4 separate regions of the Homo sapiens genome follow, and all the other regions are linked to region 3. Evidence: fine-mapped expression QTL. A gene starts in region 3. Each other region holds a variant in brackets. All regions are shown on one strand. Distances are between the middles of the regions.

Region 1 (5,000 bases), 220 kb after region 3:
CTTTCCACTTCCAATTTCATAGAATTCTTAAAGGTCATTAGCCAGGGGATAAATGTGGATCCACTCGTGACCACAGCAGTTACTGGATTTAAGAAATATTTATATGGGAAAATGTAAGTGGAGGGTCAGAGAGGAAAATTTCTAATATTTATTATCAGGAAAAACAAAGCACAGGCTCCATTTAAGCACACAGAGTATAGCTTTCAAACAAAAGGAACTAGGGTGGGGTAGGACTCATGGATAGACAAATGGAGCACCGGGGTTTTATCTAAGCATCCCTGGTAGCTCTTGGGAGTGAATAATTAGTAACTTAACTGAGGATCATGCAGGAATCAGATACTTGTGACTTAGAATGATGAAGACTACAAATTGGTTTTTTTCTAAAAACGCACTCAGCATGCTCTCCTTTCCCCTTTATTTGGAGACACGAGCTTTCAAAACTGAGAAGGGGCTGGGGCATCCTCAGCAGGTAACAGCCTGAATTCCATCACAACCCTGGCCTGCATCTTCAGTCCTGCCCCTCTCTGTCCCCTTCTCTTGGTTCTTTGGAATCTCACCGCTCCCTGAGAATGTGGCTGGCATGAGGAAGCCGCTGTGCCCTCAGCATATTCATACTTTCTTGCTACCACCTTTGCAGGCAAAGAGCAGATCTTGCTGCAGAAGGATTACGAGTCGGCGTCGCTGACAGAGGTGCGGGCTCTGCTGCGGAAGCACGAGGCGTTCGAGAGCGACCTGGCAGCGCACCAGGACCGCGTGGAGCAGATCGCAGCCATCGCGCAGGAGCTCAAGTATGTGCAGATGCCCTCCGTCCTCCCGGGAGCCCCTGGGATTCCACAGAGAGGGGAGAGAAAGGCCTGCCTTGCCTTTCCTGACTAAACGCAGAGGGAACCACGCTGGAGGCACTCTGTGCAGGGATTCTCCTTGTTTCTTTAAATGTAGAAACAGATTTTGGTTCTTAGATTGTGGTAGAATCCCTATGTCCTACCATCCAGCAGCACCCCGGCCCTCAGCACAGGCAGCTCCGCTTCCAGCAAGATGAGAAATAAGTCTGGAATATTGGGGCCCAGAAAGCTATGGGAAGGCGGCCTCACCCAGGCCAGGTGCAAGAAGCAGAATATAGCCTGTCCTGAAATCAACATAAAACCAAGCAAAACAGAGGGCACTGGCCGGGCGCGGTGGCTCACGCCTGTAATCCCAGCACTTTGGGAGGCTGAGGCGGGCGAATCATGAGGTCAGGAGATCGAGACCATCCTGGCTAACACGGTGAAACCCCGTCTCTACTAAAAATGCAAAAAATTAGCCGGGCCTGGTGGCGGGTGCCTGTAGTCCCAGCTGCTCGGGAGGCTGAGGCAGGAGAATGGTGTGAACCCAGGAGGCGGAGCTTGCAGTGAGCCGAGATCGCGCCACTGCACTCCAGCCTGGGCGACAGAGCGGGACTCCGTCTCAAAAAAACAAAAAACAAAACAAAATAAAACAAAAAAGTGGGCACTGCCTCACGTGTGCAGAAGAGACGTCAGGACCCCACTTTGCTTTATCATCCCCTAAGTGCTGTTTCACTTTCATGCGTTTGGTTTTATGGGAAGAACTGACACGACATTTGAGCCTAGGCTGGATTTGGCACGGAGTGAATGTTCTCAGTTCCCGCTCTGTGTAGTGTGAGCCCTGGGGTGCGGCTGCCCTCAGGGAGAAGAGCCTCCATGCCGTGTTTCTGAGCTTTCTTCAGGTCCTTTTCCCTTGTAATAAAGACAACATTTTATTTCCTACTCCTTTCCCCACCATTATAATCACTGATACATCTGTAGAATGTTTAGAGCCTGTCACATAATGGTAACTTCAAAAATTAAATAATAAAAATTTATTTCAATATATTACGTTTTAAAACTGCCACGTTCTGGCTGGGCACAGTGGCTCACGCCTGTAACCCCAGCACTTTGGGAGGCTGAGGTGGGCTGATCACGAGGTCAGGAGATCAAGACCATCCTGGCTAACACGGTGAAACCCCGTATCTACTAAAAATACAAAAAAAAATTAGCCAGGCATGGTGGCGGGCACCTGTAGTCCCAACTACTCAGGAGGCTGAGGCAGGAGAATGGTGTGAACCCGGGAGGCGGAACTTGCAGTGAGCCGAGATCAGGCCACTGCACTCCAGCCTGGGCGACAGAGCAAGACTCCATCTCAAAAAAAAAAAAAAAAAAGAAAGAAAAAAAAAAAGAAAACGAACTTAAGCTTTAAGAAAATGGATTTGGTAGGGTAGGAGGGGACTTTTCAAAGTTGTCTAATCCTGGACTGTTTTTGAAGCAGCCTCCTGAAGATGTCTTTAAACTTCCATGGTTCTTGATTTATATCTGAATGAAAAAGGTGATTAAGTTTTGTACAGGATTCAAACTTGTTATCCCTGGAGGTACTGGGTTAAGCTTCTAGTTAAGAATTTGCTTTAGGTTGGGTGCAGTGGCTTATACCTGTAATCCTTGTACTTTGGGAGGCTGAGGAGGTAGGACTGCTTGAGACCAGGAGTTCGAGACCAGCCTGGCAACACAGCAAGACTCCATCTCTAAAAAATTTTTGAAAAGAGCCGGGTGTAGTGGCACATGCCTGTAGTCCCAGCTACTTGGGAGCCTAAGACAGGAGGATCACTTGAGCCTAAGAGTCTGAGGCTGTAATAACGTATGATCACCCCCACTGCACTCCAGCTTGGATGACAAAGCAAGACCCTGTCT[CA/C]AAAAAAAAAAAAAAATTGCTTCAGTGGTGTGCACAGAAAGACCCCAGGTAGAATGCATAGATGGATCTGGCAAGGAAAAGTAAGGATTTAGTGAGAAATCATTTTGCCCTTGCTTGTCACTCTAGTGGCATTAGATGAGTCAGAACCTTTCTGTCTCTAAGTGGAAGGGCTCAGTTCGGCCCCATTTCAGAAATCCCGCTATGTTAGATAAAGTCATGGTGCCATTCTGGACCTGATACTCTACCCAGTGGTGAGGCCAAGTGCCCTTCTAGGGAAGCCAAGGACACAATGTGGCGCAGGCTGACTCTTCCCTCCCCAGTCACTGTGGCTGCATCCTGGCCCACAGGACTGTCCTCCAGGTCAGAGAGTGATGTCTTCCGACCTTCACTCATAGGGACATTGCCACTTAGAAATAATGCTCTCTGGGGGCCTCTCCAAGAAAAGGAAGGGGAAATAAATTGAGCCTGCGGCATTAAGAAGACAACGGTTCTCTCTGTTTAGAAATCTGTTGGCCAGCGAAAGTTTTATGAATTCTTCTTGTGATTTATCTGAGAGGAGTGATGTTTACAGTGATGACAGTTAACAAAACCCTGAAATACCATCCCAGTTCTCTATCAGATTTTTATTTTTTATTTCTTTTATGTGTATAAATGTAGGTGGGGTGGGGCACAAGTGCAGTTTTGCTACATGTGGCCAAGTCAGGGTTTTTAGGGTAGACATCACCCAAATAACATACATTGTATGAAATCACACTAAGTAATTTTTCATCATCCACCTACCCTTCCACCCCCTCACCCTTCTGAGCCTCCACTGTCTATCAGCCCACTCTCTATGTCCATGTGGATACATTTCAGATGTTTTTGTTTTTAAACTTCCCTGTTATTTTTCTTTTTTAGCCCATGTTCATTTTCTCTCATCATCTGGGAAAGTTAATCTTTATTTATTTTCACTTTTAATAGTGAACTGGACTATCACGACGCTGTGAATGTCAATGATCGGTGCCAGAAAATTTGTGACCAGTGGGACCGACTGGGAACGCTTACTCAGAAGAGGAGAGAAGCCCTAGAGGTGAAGTATTGAAGCCACTTGTTGACATGAAATCTTTTAATAGAAGCTCTTTAATTAAATCACTGGTATTCATTGTGTGTTTCTCTGTGGCATGAAACAGGTTGCCTAGTGAAAGGAACCTCTAAAGAAAACATGAAAAGTGGAAGAAAGAGGGAAATGGGAAGTTGGGAGCTTTGTGCTGTAATTTATCCAGACAGCAGCGAAGTATATTTTTCAATTTTAAAAAATCCAGGGGTGATGAGATTACGGCATAAATCTACTTTGTATCTGGTAGTAACAGTACGTTTCCAAAAGTCCTTCTACCTGAGTAAATTGAGCTGTGAGTGAGTCGGGAAATCAGAGATGTGCAAAGGGAAGATGGAACCAAGTGTTGAAGTGAGTACATTGATAGGAAACAGAATTGGGACGAATTTGGCCTTATTTAAGTGTAAGACTAAGTGTAAGACACAGTGGGTATCTTGTGTTTAACTGCCCCTAATTGTCTTTAACCATGGAAGACATCTCCCACGTGAGAGAAACCAGCAGTTTACCAGTTCCCTGAGTCTTTTCTGCTTGACTCTGATGATACTTTTGAGATAACCCAATATCAAGCTTCCCAAATGCCAAATGGCTGTGACATATCTGCTTAAAGAAAGAGATGTCAAGAGAAAGACCAGACATGTAACAGAGACAGCACAAAACATTTTAGAACAGGAGGGAAAAATGAACCTAATTATGGAAGGCTTAAAGCTACGGAGATGCCTTCCCCTTCTGCCCCCACTTGTCTGCCATGGGAAACAAGCGCAGGATCATCCTGTTGCTTGAAATCTTGTGCTTTCATATGCCCAGAAAGGCAAGAGGTGATCTGTGTTAAATCCTGAATGAGGATTTGAGAGCATGAACCTGCAGTTCCTTCTCTCTCCATTAGGTAGGTGACTTTGGGAAAGGCACACAACTTCTCTGCACATGTTGACTCTAAAACGTGGAAGATGCCCTGCATTTTCTGTTAATCTGGCACAGTTAGGGAATCAGGTCCTCTTATAAAGTCCTGCTTTAGCTGAAAGCAAGTTACAGTATGCCGTATGTGGAGTCTCAGTTTTCAGAAAAGTAGCATGTAGTGAAGTACTTTAGACACTTTAAAAATGAGGCTGCTCTGGATGTTATGAAATCCTTCTTTGATTCAGAAGGCACCTCAGAGACCTGCAGGGCTCAGCCTAATTGTTTGAGCATCGGG
Region 2 (5,274 bases), 48 kb after region 3:
ATTTTTAAATTAAAAAAAGAAACCCCACGATGGTATAAAGAGACCTTACCTGAATAAGTGCGGGAATAACCATTTTCACTGTCTTGTTAATAACTTGAAAACTGTAAGTATCATCTAGGCGCATGACATTGGCTCCCATAAATGTAAAAATAGACATGATATTGTGTAAAACTTTATCCTGAAAGAAAACACAACTATCAACATTTTTTATTTCTGTTAATTTCTACTAATTTTTTTTTCAAGAGATAGCGTCTCGCTCCGTCATTCAGGCTGGGATGCAGTGCAGTTGTGTGATCACAGTTCACTGAAACCTTGGACTCCTAAGCTCAAGCAATCCTTCCACCTCAGCCTCCTGAGTAGCTAGGACTACAGGTGCATGCTACCCTGCCCAGCTAATTTTTTTTCCTTTTCTGTTTTGTAAGGGTGGGGTCTCACTATGTTACCCAGGCTGGTCTTGAACTCCCAGGCTGGTCTTGAACTCCTGGCCACAAGTGATATTCCTGCTCAGGCTAACATTTTCCATTTCAACAATTCATTACAACTCACCAATAAAAAGAGAAATAACCTGATTAAAAAACAGGCAAAGGATTTGAAAAGACATTTCTTCAAAGAAAAAATTCATACGAAAAGAATATAAGCACAAATACTACTTCACACCCACTAGAATGGCGATAAAAAAGACAGTAACAAGTACTGGCAAGGATGTGAAGAAATTGGGAACTTTACAGGCTGCTGGTGGAAGCAAAATGGTGTGGCCACTATGGAAAATAGTCTTGCAAGTTACTCCAAAGCTAAACATAAAATTCCGTGTGACCCAACAATTCCACTCCTAGGTATATATACCCAGGAGATATGAAAACATGTCCACACAAAACCATGTCTACAATATTCATAGCAACATAATTTATAATAGCCCCACAGTTGAAACAACCCAAATGTCCATCAACCGATGAACAGATAAACAAAATGTGGCATACACATACAACAATATTATTCAGTCATAAAAGGAATACGGATTCAAGCTTCAACAAGAATGAACCTCAAAAACATTATGCTAAGCAGCCGGGCACGGTGGCTCACGCCTGTAGTTCCAGCACTTTGGGAGGCCGAGGCGGGCGGATCATGACATCAGGAGATCGAGACCATCCTGGCTAACACGGTGAAACCCCGTCTCTACTAAAAATACAAAAAAATTAGCCGGGCGTGGTGGCGGGTGCCTGTAGTCCTAGCTACTCGGGAGGCGGAGGCAGGAGAATGGCATGAACCCAAGAGGCAGAGCTTGCAGTGAGCTGAGATCGCGCCACTGCACTCCAGCCTCGGCAACAGAGCGAGACTCCGTCTCAAAACAAACAAACAAACAAACAAAAACATTATGCTAAGCAAAAGAAACCAGACACAGAGGGCCACATATTGTATGACTCAATTTATATGACATGTCCAGCATAGGCAGATTGAGAGAGACAGAAAATGGATTACTAGTGGCCAGGAGCAGGGTGGTGGTCATGGTGGTGGTGGTGGTGCTGGTGGTGACGGTGGCAGCGGCAGGGAGGAGGGAGAGGAAGAGTGACAGTTAATGGGTGTAGGGTTTCTTTTCTGGGGTGATGAAAATACTCTTCAAGTAGATCGTGGTGGTGATTACAGAAACTTCGTGAATATACTAAAATCACTTAATTGTATACTTTAAATGGGTGAATTTTATGGCATCTGAACTATATTTCAATAAAAACAGAAAAAATATTAATGATTCTTAACTGTTTCTGGATTATCAACCCCTTTGAGAAGCACAGACTCTCTTACAAGAAAAAAAGAAATCCCATACAGATAAAACTTTGCATATGATTTCAGTAGATTAAGATCCCCTAAAGCTCATGGAGAACCCCAGGTTAAGGAGCTCTGACTCAAATCCTCAATATGAAAATAGCTTCAATCTCTTTACAAATGTTTAAATGATATTTTTCATAAAAGGGACATGATTTCTTTAAATGACATAGTTTATGATCAAATTAATTTTCTGAAGTCACTGGTTAAAGGTTACTTTGAGGATTACTTGAGGATAAATGAGATATTAACTTTTCCCAATTAACACCAATACCTACTGTTTTATTAGATAGATAGTGTGCCAGGTATTATGCTAAGTACTAACCACAAATTATCCAACTGAATTCCCCCAACAATCCAGTGAAGAAGGTTATTATTCCCACTTGATAAAAAGGGAAACCAAAGCTTAGCAAGATCAACTGGCTTATACAGTCCCAGCTATGAAGAGGCAGGGCTGAGAGTCTCACCAGTGCTGGAAGATTCCAAAGCCTAATTGATTAAATTTAAAATCAACAGGTGCCAGTGCATTTCTGTGGAAGAAAAATATCTGAAATATCTGCTAAAATCTTATATCATTAACGCTTACCGGAAATATTCCAGCAACAGTGCCCAAAAGTAAAAGGGCATGGTGATGGGTCTGCGGCATCTCCGAAAGGCGGATGCACTGAACTATCAACTCCACGTTGAACTTCTCCTCATCTAAAATATCTACAATGGTGAGAAAGACAAAAACCCTAAGTGGCAGGTACACTCACGCTCAAAGTAGATAATTTTTCTAACCTTTCCTTCCAAAAAGTACCTACCTTTGGGTATTTTGCCACCATCTGGAGATAGTTTTTGGCAGATGTTGAGCAGACAACTAAGAATTAATTGTTTGGTGTATTCCATATTTCCCTGCTCTTGTGGCAAGGGTTCTAAACATCTTCAGGACACCCAAAAGAGAAATGATGGGAAATGTAAAAGTTGTACAATTCATTGTTACATTAATGGCCATTGTCC[AGAACTCATTCAATAAG/A]GAACTCATTCAATAAGGAATAACTAAAATACTATCATTAAACATCAAGTCTAGAAATAAGATATAAGATTTCTAACTCTAATTTTCTCTCATATAGACAGGCGCTATGTCAAATTCCACGTCCTCTCTATTGCACTTTCCATTAGCCTATCTGGAATCTTACAGGACAACCTTCAGAATTACTTTGCCTTTCACATGAAAGCACACGCTACAATTCATACTCAATTTACACACACACATACACAAATCTACGTATATAGAATATATACATCTATATATATGAAAATATATTTAGATAGCAAACACTATATACACACATATCTATATCTATATAAATTCAACACTATATCTTGAAATGCAAGTAATGACGTCCCAGGCACGCTACTGAAAAGTTCAGAGGAAAGTAGGCTGTACAGTGAGTGGCCATTTACTACATGACACAGGACACTAAGGTCAGTTTGGGGCACCAGCAATGGATACCTAAAACCAATCTTTTAATTTCACCTATAGTACTTGCTTTATTTTACAGACTATCTAAACAAGAGAAGAGTATGTTGAAAAGAGAATGTTAGATAAGATGGGCAAGAATTAGAGTCCTATTCTCTCACAGATCAAAGCCAAGTGTCATTACCTTGATAGCAAGTTAAAAAGAGTTGGCACCAATATCTGAGGACTTCTGAGCTTCTTTTTGTGCTGCAGTAATTCCAGGATGAGAGTTACTCTTTGCCAGTAAGAACCTCCAACTTCCTGAACAGATTCTAGATCTTGTGATTTTCTGGAAAATGGAGAAGACAAAACGTTGGAAAAGCAAACTCTATCATGTGCTAAGTAAAAACCATTGTGCCTGATTATAGCAAATTGATGAGTATCAAAAAGTTCCAATGGTTTCATAACATTCAGAGTCAGGGAACAACAGCATGTGCTCAATGCATTTGTAGCTCTTACTTCTGCTGCATTTTTTGCCTTCTTTTTTGCTGAACTGTGCCCAAGGGTTTAGCTTTATCTGGTGGCTCCAGTTCTATTCGGACTTGTTCAGCATTAACGGAAATCTGAAATATTGAAGGAAGAAGAGTTGATGATATAATCCATTGGGATAAAATTAGAGCAATAAATGTTAACCCCTAGGAAGGATTTATTCAATTAAGAGGGAAGAATGACTTACTGGATATGCATCTGAACCCCCCCCAGCATTGGATGCTACTACCTTGTTACAGACTTCTTGAAAAACCAGAATGAGAAGAAAGCAAAGTAGGGAAGAGTATACACTAAAAGCTCTAGCCAACATAAATTCAACTTCAGATTTTCATTTTAACCAAGCTCTCCTACTACCATGCACTTGCTTTCTATACAATTTGTCTTGGGAGTCTCAAGTTACAGCCCTGCACTTGTCTTGATTATGATACAGTATCACTTCTCCAGTCCAGAGTCACTCAATTTCACGCTCATCCCTTAGAGTGGACAACTAGTAATGCAATACAGAATCATCCATACCGATTGTTTCCAAGTGCCGGATCAGATATGTATATTCTAATCAGCTAGGAAGGAATAAGACATATACACACATGCACAAAAACAGATTTACTGCCCCAGAGATTCTTTAGATATGGGGTGGGATCCAGATATCTCTTTTTATAAGGTTCTAACATCACAACTAAATCTTTGGATTCTGATTCAAAGAAAACAACTATAAAAAATACTTTTGTGATAACCATGGAAATATGATTATGAACTAGGTATTAGATAATACCAAGGAATTATTTTTTTTTTTACTTCTAATGGCATTGTAGTCATATCCACTTTTCAAAAGATGCACACTGAAGTACAGAGGGATGAAAGTGCATGACATTATGAGATTTACTTTAAAATATTTCAGCAAAGAAAAAGAAGGAAAAAAGATTAATATGTTAAAATTCTGAGAACTGCTGAATCTAGATACTAGAACTTTGTATTATTCTATATTCAAAAAAGAGAATAACCAGGTGGCTATTCTGATAATAACAAGGTTTCAATATACGTATAAAACCAACAAGCAGAATTTCAATTCCATTATATGTCATTAAACAACTATTTAAATTAAGTAGAATAATGTTACCCAGTTCAATACTGAGCCATTGACTCATTCCTATTCCTTGCATAAAGGAATAGGTAGATTCCGTCTAATATGAGAAAGATCACACACACACATATTCCTACACATCCTATCTGGTTAAAATTATCAACAAATACTTCATAAAATAAAATAATGGTAAAGATTTAAAATTTTTATTTTATGCCTCTCTCTGACTTACTTTTCCATGATTTTTGTTAATGGTAACATCTGACCTCTTACAAGCACTATAAAATACAGGACTCTTAAACATGGTGTCCCTTGGAAGAGACTATAAACATTAATAAAAAAAATTACAAGAAGTTTGCAGCTTACCCCTTTAAAAACACTGCTG
Region 3 (5,274 bases):
GCTGTCCGAGGTGATTTTCTCCCACTACTCTCCTAGGTGGTGCCATCCAATCTCATGATGTCATATCATTCTTCCCTCATGCTTCAGCCATACTGGTTGGTGGCCTTTGTTTCCTGAACACATTTAATGCATTCTCAAGACCCTCAGGGACTTTGCAGCAGCTGCTCGCTAAGGCTGGAATGCTCTTCCCCACCATCTTCATATGGCTGTTTCCTTTCTTTCACTCACCAGCAGCTTAAACTTTGACTCCTCTGAGAGACTTTCCTTGTCACCCAACTAAGGTTGCCACTCAGGTGCTCCCAATTTAATCTTCTCTAAAACACATCACTGTATGTGTCCTCAACTAGAGTATAAGCTTCCTCGAAACAAGAACAATCAAAACTCCTTGCCCTCATGGAGTTTATAGTCTTATGATGGGTGAAGTAACATAAAATAAAAAGGCACCTTATATAGTATATTAGCATGACAAATGTTAGCCAGAAATAAAGCAAGGAAGAGTTGCTAGGGAGTGTGTATGAGTGTGTTTTGGGAGAGTGTTTGCAATTTTAAATATTGGTGGTCAGGAAGGGCCCCACTGAGAACTGACATTTGAGTAGACTTGAAAAGGGAAAAGGAAATATTGAGTAAAGATTTTAGGATGGGAGTGTGACAGGCCTGCTAGGAGAATAGCAAAGTCGCTGTGGCTGCTGCAGAAAAAGTGAGAAGGAAAGTAGTAGGAGATGAAATCACAGTGTGTGAGGATTCGGGCAGATCAGGAAGTGCTCGTGTAAGAACTGGATCTTTACTCAAAGAATGAGCAAAAATTAGTAGACGGTTGGCCGGATGCAGTGGCTCACACCTGCAATCCCAGGTTACAGGAGGCCGAGGCGGGCGGATCACTTGAGGTCAGGAGTTCAAGACTAGCCTGGGCAACATGGTGAAACCTCATCTCTACTAAAAATACAAAACTTAGCTGGGCATGGTGGCGCGCACCTGTAGTCCCAGCTACTCAGGAGGCTGAGGCACATGAATCACTTGAACACGGTAGGCAGAGGCTGCAGTGAGCTGAGAATGTAACACTGTACTCCACTCCAACCTGGGCAACAGAGTGAGACTGCCTCAAAAAAAAAAAAAAGTAGGTTTTAGTAAGGGATTAACATGATCTGAATTATGTTTTGTCATGACTTCTCTGGCTGTTGTGTTGAGACTACATTGCAGAGGGGCAAGGGCAAATATAGGGAGACCGATTAGGATACTGCAGTAATAATGTAAGAGATGTGGGACTCTATCTAGAAGGGCCCATGAGGTCCTTTGCATGCTAGTATTCTTTACTGCTGTGCCTGGCCATGATAGGCATTCAGTGAATATTTGCTTATTTAAAATAACACACTGGGCTAATTGAACAACAGTGCCAAATGAGGGAGATATTTCTAGGAATAAGTTCTTAGGATTTATGAACATTTTAATCCAGATTTTCTTTGTTAACTCTGCTCTCTGGCCCTTTCACTCAGCCCCGTTTGCACCTAAATATGACTTACAAAAGAAACACAGCATTTATGTGTACTTATTTCAACTTATTTTAGCTTTGTAAAGAAGTACAAGGTTGACTCAGGGCCCAGCTTGGTGTCTCATGCCTGTAATTTCAGCATTGTGGGAGGCCAAGGCAGGAAGATATTGTGAGCCCAGGAGTTTGAGACCAGCCTGGGCAACACAGTGGACCCTGTCTCTACAAAAAAAAATTTTTAAATTAGCTGGGCATAGTGGTGTGCGTCTATAGTCCCAGCTACTCCTGGGGCTGAGGTGGGAGGATCACTTGAGGGAAACCCTGTCTCAAAGTGGCGGGGCTGGGGGGAGACTCAGGCAGAATTGTGAAGATATTCAATTGCTCCTGACTTTATCAATAATCTAACATTTCAACCTAACATTGATATCTATTTTATGCAAAGCATTACACTATGCACTGGAGACTGTATAAGACAAGTTCCTTTTCTCAAACTACAGTCGAGTTGGATAGATAAAACACACAACACATACCAAAAGACAGCTATAAATCCAAGGCAGTGTATGTCAAGGGTAAATTCACCTATTCAGATTGGATCTTGAGAAGTGCATCAGGCTTGGAAAATGGGTAAGGAGGAGAGAAAAGCAACAGTGAATCAGAACATGAGTTCCCAGTTATGGGACTTGTAATGAATTCCTCAATTAAAACAAAAAATAATGAAAACAAAAGCCAGGGAGGAGAAAGCCCACGTTAATGACACTAAAATATATCTTTCCAAACAAATGTGGATAAAAGCCAAGTAGAGAAGATGAGAACTTTGAGGTCCCTAACAGAAAATAAACAGTAAGCAGCCAGCCATTCCAAGTGGCTGACATGACTTTGTTTAACTTTATTTGTATTTCTGGCTGGTGTGTTTACAGCCAATAGGTCAAACTATCAGTCAGTGTAGGGCCCTGAGAAGTCGGGTATTTAAGAGCATCTAATAGGCACAGAATTGTGCTCCATACTGCTTAAACTGTTCCCTAAGTGTCCAATTTGGAGAAAACACCCACACGCAGGATAACTGGCGAGTGACGCGGAGTGGCTGCGAGTCCAAGTTATCACTAACGGATGGGGAGCTTGGGCTGGGCACAGTCCAGCGTACTGAACCCTTCCCCCACCGTTTCACCTGCATACAGAGGTGTGTACTGTCAAAAAGCAGCGCCTCCAAGTCTCTTCTGGCACTGTCTGGACTTGGATCCGAGGCAGACGAGGAAGCTGAGAAAACCCTGGCGTTGACCCCGTGGACCTGGGCGCCCCGGGAAGGCCAGCGCTTGGTCCAGGCAGGCGGGGCCTGTGCGGTGACCACCCTGGTCCTGAAAAGTCCCAGCCCCGAGCGCCCTCCCTCCTAGACCTGGAGGCCTGGAACAGCCAGGTGGACGTCGGCCCACCTTTCTTTTCTTTCCTTCCCATTTTCCTACCACCTCCCACCCCACTCCGCCTTCCGGGCAAAGGCAGCCAGATCCACCCAGGACACATTCTTTGTCCTTATCCCTCTGTGCTCGTCCCACAGCAAGCCAGTCGCGGTCCAAGGCTCCAGAGGCTGTGCAGGAGGCCGAGCTGGGTGGCGATCAGCGGCGGGTCCCTGTCCAAAACCCAGCAGAGCCGCCAGGGACGCCCCAGACACAGAAGGCGGGGCGCGGGGAGGGTGGGGAGACCACAGCAGTGAGGCGCGCGAGCCGGGAAGTGAACGAGGACTGACTCCTGTCGCTTCCCGTAGCCGCCCACGGACGCCAGAGCCGGGAACCCTGACGGCACTTAGCTGCTGACAAACAACCTGCTCCGTGGAGCGCCTGAAACACCAGTCTTTGGGTGAGTCGCGCGACCCCCGGCCTCGGGTGGCGGGGCAGTCGCTAGAGGCGTGGCTGCTCTGAGGGTCTCGCCAGTGGAGGATGGCATTCGGATGTCACGGCTCCTAAATCACCATTTGATGGGTGGGACAGTGTCCAGTCCACCCCGACCCGCCGGTCCTCACCGCGGCAGAGCCGGGGCTGGGTGGCGGGGACGCTGCCTCTGCAGGCGAGGCGCTCCGGGGCATAAGGGATTATCAGGAGTCGCGGCCTTTCTTGGACATCCCTGGCTGGGGTCAGGCTGTTTGCCCTGGGGTGTCTCCTCGCTGCAAACCCACCCCACCTGGGCTGCTTTCTCACCTGTTCCCTCCTAGCCTGAGGCCGAGCGCCACCTCCAAGTGGAGGAATCTGGGGAAGTTTCCTTCCCGGAATTTGTAGTGACAGTGGAGTGACCTCCATTGCGTTCCCTGCCTCTAACACGCTCTTTAGGATGCCGAGTCATTTGACTGCAGTGTTAAACATTGCAAAGCGCAAGTCATGTGACTTCCTTTGACCGTACGTGAAACTTAAGTGATGGCTGCTTGTGATGCATACGAAGTGTTCATGCTGGCGGGACCTGTCCCTGGGGATACTTCGGGGGTTGCGTGATTTAATGCAAGCAGATGGCTTAAATTGGGTCACTGGCTTGTTATTATACATGTGTATGGCAACTCGGCATCCATTCTTTTTGCTCTTGTTCTTACTTCCTGAATTGAGTCACGGAGCCAGAGTTTTGAGGTTTTGACTAACGAATTAAGTTAATGACATGGGGCTATATTTAGGTGGTAAACCAAGAGGGATACAGTTTTTTTTCTTAATAAAGAAAAAGTGATAGATTTGATCGGTGTGTATTGTTGGTGTGCAGTATAATGACAGAATTGCTGGAAGTAAAATACAGGAAGCTCTGGTTTCATTTCCCCTTTAGTTCTGCTTAAAGTCGAGTTTTTCCTGGAGCTATTAAATGTAGTGTAGTGTCCATGAGTGCTTTTATCTTAAAAAATGTGGCTGATGCTTTCCAACACTCCCCTGCCCTGTGATTATTATTTTTTTAAGCAACAGAGAAAACCGTATCTTAATAGTATTAAAAGTATTGGATTTTTCCCTACTTTGATTTGTTTAAATTGGAGGAGGAAGAGCAATTCTTTCTATTCACAATAATAATAGCTAACATAGCGCTTACTCTTTCGCTGTTTTATTAACTCAATCCTCAGAACAAACCAATGATGTGAATACTGTAATTCTCATTTTATGGAAATGAAAATCTAAATGAATACCTCTGGTAATTGTACGGGACTGTTTGATTAGTATTTACCATTAATTAATTAAATTTTTTTTTTTTTTTGAGATGGAGTCTCGTTCTGTTGCCCAGGCTGGAGTGCAGTGGCACAATCTCGGCTCACTTCAACCTCCGTCTCCCAGGTTCAAGCAATTCTCCTGTCTCAGCCTCCTGAGTAGCTGGGACTACAGGTGCATGCCACTACGTCTGGCTAATTTTTGTATTTTTAGTAGGGATGGGATTTCACCATATTGGTCAGGCTGGTCTCTAACTCCTGAACCTCAGGTGATCCACCCGCCTTGGCCTCCCAAAGTGCTGGGATTACAGGTGTGAGCCACCATGCCTGGCCTATTTTAGTATTTTTAATAATAAATTCCATGTTAGAAATTTTCTACTGATGTATTTTTTAAGTCAATATTTCCTACACTCACAATCCAAAATTATTTAGTATATGAGCACACTGGTAAGAATGGGAGGCAGATCGTTGATTGTAATAATATTCTATTATTTGGTAAATATCAGTAACATAATATATAATTTAAATTTTAAAATAGGATATGAAGAAAAATGCTACATGCTTACTTTTCTTTTCCTCTATTTTTACTTTACACAGGGCCAGTGCCTCAGTTTCAATCCAGGTAACCTTTAAA
Region 4 (5,274 bases), 100 kb after region 3:
CTTATTTAGATTTTGAAATTCTGAATTCAAGCACACATTGCAGTGGGATGAGACTCTTAGGAACCTTAAGAGGGGTGAATATATTTTCATGTGGGAGAGGCATGAATCACTGGGAATCAGGGCAGACTGTGGCATATTGATTCTAAAAATGACCTCCGTAATCCCTGCCTCCTGGATTTAATCCCTTCCCTTGAGTGTAGGTGGGACCTGCGACTTGATTCAATCCACAGAATACAGCCTGCATGACAGAATATGTGTGATTACATGTAAGTGATTACATTACATATGATTGTAACATCAATCTTTCCAGGAGACTCTACTTTGCTGGCTTTGAGAAAACAAATGATTCTGGAAAGATTAATATGGCAAGGACCTAAGGAACTCCTTCAGCTAATACCCAGCAAGAAACAGAGGCCTTTAGTCCAATGGTCCACAAAGAAACAAATGCTACTAACAACCACATGAGCTCGGAAGCAGATCCTTCCCCAGTCGAGTCTCAGAAAAGCCTGCAGCCCAGATGACATCTTGATCACAATTTTGTGAGGCCCTAAGACAGAGGACTCAGTCTAGTTGTGTCTGGAATCCTGAACCTCAGAAACTGTGAAATAATAAGTTTATGTTGTTTTAAGCCAGCAAGTTTGTGATAATATTGTTACACAGCAAAAGAAAAAACTAATATAAAGTTTAACAATGCCTCGAGTGTTTACTGATCCTGTGACAAGGAAAGTAAGAAGAAACAGAACAGAAGACTTTGTCCATGATCCTTACTGGAATTGTTAACTTGCCTGCTTCTACACTGCCAACCACAGGAGTAGAGACAGCTTTAGCTTTCATTACATGAAAAGTACTGCCAACTTGGGTAATTCAATATAAGACCAGAGCCTTCAGGGAGCCAACAAAGAAAAATACATCTTATTTAAGGAGAACGACCAGTCAAAAAGAAGAATATAAGTCAAAACTAACAGAACATTTATTAATCAGGATAGAGTAGCTGAAAAAGATAGACAACATCTTGAATTGTAAAAAATAGTAAAAGTGAGCTAGGCATGGTGGCTTTTGCCTGTAATCAGCTACTTGGGGGCTGAGGTGGGAGGATCACTAGAGGCCAGGAGTTCAAGACCAGCCTGGACAACATAGAAAGACCCAGTCTCTGCAAAAATTTTTAAAAATTAGCCAGACGTGGTGGAGTGTGCCTGTGGTTCTAGCTACTCAGGAGGCTAAGGCAGGAGGATCCCTGGAGCTCAAGAGTTCGAAGCTGCAGTAAGCTATAATCACACTACTGTACTCCAGCCTGGGTGAGTGAGCAAACCCCAACTCTTAAAAAAAATAGTCAAAGAAGCCTCACTTTTAGTAATGGTGCAATAGCTTGATTGAACTTACTCTCTTGCAGATAAAAAATAGTAAAATCTTCACAAAATATAAAAAACTTAAGGTACTAAAGAATGACCCAAAGCAGTCAAACAGCGGTGAGAAGTGACCCTTGCACCAGTAAAGATCTTTTATTGTGATCTCAGATTTTTTTCTCATTTATTAATTCACTGCAAGAAGCCAGCTAGTCTCTGCTAAACCTCTAGGACTGGAGTTTGTTCATTCCCTCCCATGTCCTGGCCTTCCTTGAATCTTCTTTTCCTTATGGACCTAGGATCTCTATGTTCCTGCTTCATTGGCCAAATCCCTGGCCCTAGTAACATGGCCCTTGCCCCGACTGTGGTTGTTTTTTTCTTTTTTTCTTTTTTTTTTAAACTTAATGGTAATTTTATTTTCCTAACAGCTTTATTGAGATGTGATTCACATATGAAAATCATACATATTTGAGATGTACAGCTTGATGTTTTGGTATTGCAGCATGCTGTTCTTAACAACTCAAATGACAGCCATCTTTCTTTTCTACACATATGGCAACTTGGCCTCTGAGATCCACGATACCAAATTAGCACAGCTGACATGTATATCTGACAAATGACTGATATGCAGAATATTTAAGGAACTGCTTCAAATCAAAAAGAAAAGATAGACATTCAATAGAAAAAAATGGGCAAAAGACTTGAACAAGCACTTTTAAAAAGACAATATCTGAATGTGTTTAATAAACATGTAAGTATGTTCTCTGCATCATATTGAAGGTCAATGACCTATAAGACCTTACCTCTTTTATACCTCTTTGACTTCTTCCCCTATTGCTTTCTGCTCTTCTTATAACAGCTATAACTATAATTCCATCTACATCTCTTGGATGCTTGCTGATTTTCTTTTTCTTTCTTTC[C/CTTTTTTTTT]TTTTTTTTTTGAGATGGAGTCTCACTCTGTTGCCTAGGCTAGAGTGCAGTAGTGCAATCTCGGTTCACTGCAACCTCTGCCTCCCGGATTCAACACCTCATACCTCATTCTCATACCTCATGCCACCTGATTCTCATACCTCAGCCACCTGAGTAGCTGGGATTACTGGTGTGTGCCACCACACCCAGCAAATTTTTTTCATATTTTTAGTAGAGACGGGGTTTCACCATGTTGGCCAGGCTGGTCTCGAACTCCTGACCTCAAGTGATCCACCTGCCTTAGCCTCTCAAAGTTCTGGGATTACAGGCATGAGCCACTGTGCCTGGTTCTGCTTGCTGTTTTTCCAAACACTAGACATGTTTTCACCTCAGGGCCTTTGAATTCACTGTTCCTTCTGTCTTCGATGCTCTTCCCTGAGATAATGTCATAGCTATCTCCTTTTTTCAAGTCTTTGCTCAAACATCACCTTTTTGGTGAACTCTTACCTGGAAGTCCCTCTAAAATTACTAACAACCCATTACCACCATCGGACACTCCTATATCCCTTCCCTTAGCACTCATTACCTAACATACTAACTGTGTTATTTATTTAGCTTGTTTACTACCTGTTTCTCCATCTAAAATGAGTGCCATGTGTGCATAGATTGGTGTCTGGGTTTTTTCCTTTTTGTTACTTCTGCAATATTTAGAACAGTGACTGACACATATCAGGCACTCAATAATTATTTGCTGAATTTCTCAATGTCTCGATTTGGCATAAGGATTTCATTTTCCCATGGTATATTTTCTTCTGTGGATTGATGGGCTAGTACTAATTTGCACGGGTGTCTTGGTGATTCACAATCATGATTTTAATGTCCCAGTCCCCTTTGGCTACAGGAGGTACTTGATCCTAGGTGACTAAGGCAGAAATAAATAGAATGTGTAGGACTCCTCTGGTGTAAAAAGTCATGGGTTCCAAAAGTTCATTTATAAGTCAATTGTTTGGACATCCTGAACTTATTTTCAGAACACGATTGGGCACAGCTAGTTAACTGCAGGGAGGCCTGAGGAGACTGGAAGGTGCCAGAACCTGGAACCAGATCTGCCCACTAGGACAGGACCAGCCCTGGAAGGACAGGAGCAGGTGCACTGGATTCTAAAGGTGTTCAGTGCAGCCGGCAGGGGACATTGCCCTGAAGGCAAGATTACAGGCAGCAGTCAGCATTAGAGAGGGCCCAGAGGAAATGGGGAGACCCTATTGGGAAGCAGAGTCTAGCAACTGGCAATGTAGGAGTAGTGATGGGCTGTTTACCAAAAACATCATTAGTGCAATAGTAACTGCAAAACAGAGAAAATATTTGTAATTCATATGTATCTGACAAATGACTCATATGCAGAATATTTAAGGAACTGCTTCAAATCAAAAAGAAAAAATAGACATTCAATAGAAAAAAATAACAAAAGACTTGAACAAGCACTTTTAAAGAGACAATATCTGAATGTGTCTAATAAACATATAAGTATGTTCTCCACAGCATTTGTAACCAGTCAAATGAAAGCCACAGTGAGATTTCACTACACACCCACCAGAATGGCTAATATTAAAAAGACAGGCAATACCAAATGTTGGTAAAGATGTGGAACAACTGACATTTTGTTATACTGCTGGTGGAAGTACAAATTGGTACAAATATTCTGTAAAATTATTGTTTTCTCATTACTGAAACTCTCAGGTATGCTATATACTCAACAGAAATGTTGAGAAATGTGTGCGTACGAACACCGAAAGGCATGTTTGAGAATGTCCATAGCAGCATATTTTGTAATAGCATAATCTGCTTCCGATGCAGATGTTTATCAACAGAAGAATAAACATATACATTGTGAAACTGTCATACAGTGGAATACTATTCAGCAATGAGAACAAACAAACCATTGCAACGCACAGCAATATGACAGACTCTTACAAGCCTAATATCAAGCAATAGATGTCAGATGCAAAGGAATACAAATAGCACGATTCTATCTATATAAAATTCAAACCCAGTAAGAATTAATCTATAATGAAGGGAATAATTTGTGCAGCAGAGATAGGTAGTTACTGGGAGGAGGCATAAGGGTTTCTGGGGTCACGGGAATGTTCTGTTTCTTGATTTGGGCAGTAAATACACAGGTATGTTCATTTTGTGAAAACCATCAGGCTATAAACTATATATACTTTTCTGTATGTATGCTGTATTATAGTAGAATATGCACTTAATTTTTTTAAAAGGCAAGAAGTCATGGGATCAGCAGTACGAAGCATCTTGGCATGTAGCATGACCCAAAATCCAAGCAGGGGTCAGGAGTTAGAAGCCACTTCAGGTAAGGGAGACTGATGAGAGTTATGCAATACCACAACCCAGGAAGAGTTTGGGAGTTACATAGACAGGTTTTAGCCCAGACCATCTGAGCTGGTCGGGCTCAGTCTGCCACTTACTACCATGAGCCACCTAACCAACCTCTCTGGATCTCAGTTTTCTCATTTGCAAAATGAAGGTAATATGAAACTCTCCAGGTTTGCTTGGTACAGAGAACAAGTTTAACAAATATTTGCTATTAATAATAATAGTCATTTTACCTCAGCAGGTGCAAGAAGGAGATTTAGTTACTGCCCCTGCAGTATAGAGTTCAAGCTTTGGGTCTCAGGAACAATATAGAAACCCGCTAATGTGAACCAGGGGTCAAAGTCAGAGCTGAACACATATTAAAAGGCACTCAAGTGACTTCCTGAGTCCTGGGCTAGAAATGTTCAAAATTCTGTAGGACAAATCTGCATCACGCGAGGAGAGAGAAGAGATGCAGAGAGTGGGCTGGACCCGACAGAGTAGTTTGTCCCACAAATATGACTGCTGACAATTTCTCCTATCTGTGCATACTCCAGGAGATGGAGTCTAGTTTCCCCCTCCTTGAAAGAATGTTGGCCCTGGGAGGCACTTTGAACAGTAGAGTGAAAATAGCAATGATGCTATCTATACCTGGCAGTTTT

Direction of the effects. Alleles are on the strand shown, and positions count from the first base shown. SD is a standard deviation of normalised expression in the study named. Not every link is listed here.
For the expression in neutrophils of the gene that starts at base 3,252 in region 3, C is the high allele of the variant in region 4 and CTTTTTTTTT is the other (large effect, 0.82 SD a copy in BLUEPRINT).

Evidence for each region. PIP is the estimated chance that this variant, and not a neighbour inherited with it, causes the effect.
Region 1: its variant is the best candidate, but not a certain one, in a credible set for the expression of LGALS8 in whole blood (INTERVAL, PIP 0.79).
Region 2: its variant is the best candidate, but not a certain one, in a credible set for the expression of LGALS8 in lymphoblastoid cells (GEUVADIS, PIP 0.74).
Region 4: its variant is the best candidate, but not a certain one, in a credible set for the expression of LGALS8 in neutrophils (BLUEPRINT, PIP 0.62).

The regions. Positions count from the first base shown.
Region 1 is chr1:236,743,989-236,748,988 of GRCh38, forward strand. ACTN2 (actinin alpha 2) reads left to right here. Exons shown (of 21, transcript NM_001103.4): 12 at 638-788; 13 at 3,679-3,787. Among named protein-coding and RNA genes, the nearest start is that of MTR, 49 kb to the right of the region's middle. The variant CA/C (reference allele first, on the strand shown) is at 2,718.
Region 2 is chr1:236,568,947-236,574,220 of GRCh38, forward strand. HEATR1 (HEAT repeat containing 1) reads right to left here. Exons shown (of 45, transcript NM_018072.6): 24 at 5,256-5,274; 25 at 3,779-3,882; 26 at 3,465-3,608; 27 at 2,622-2,740; 28 at 2,405-2,526; 29 at 50-178. Among named protein-coding and RNA genes, the nearest start is that of HEATR1, 33 kb to the right of the region's middle. The variant AGAACTCATTCAATAAG/A (reference allele first, on the strand shown) is at 2,818.
Region 3 is chr1:236,520,731-236,526,004 of GRCh38, forward strand. LGALS8 (galectin 8) reads left to right here and starts at 3,252. Exons shown (of 10, transcript NM_201544.4): 1 at 3,252-3,331; 2 at 5,238-5,274. LGALS8-AS1 (LGALS8 antisense RNA 1) reads right to left here and starts at 3,778. Exons shown (of 1, transcript NR_034040.1): 1 at 2,339-3,778. RefSeq lists a silencer at 3,545-3,594.
Region 4 is chr1:236,624,639-236,629,912 of GRCh38, forward strand. No RefSeq gene overlaps it. Among named protein-coding and RNA genes, the nearest start is that of HEATR1, 23 kb to the left of the region's middle. The variant C/CTTTTTTTTT (reference allele first, on the strand shown) is at 2,264.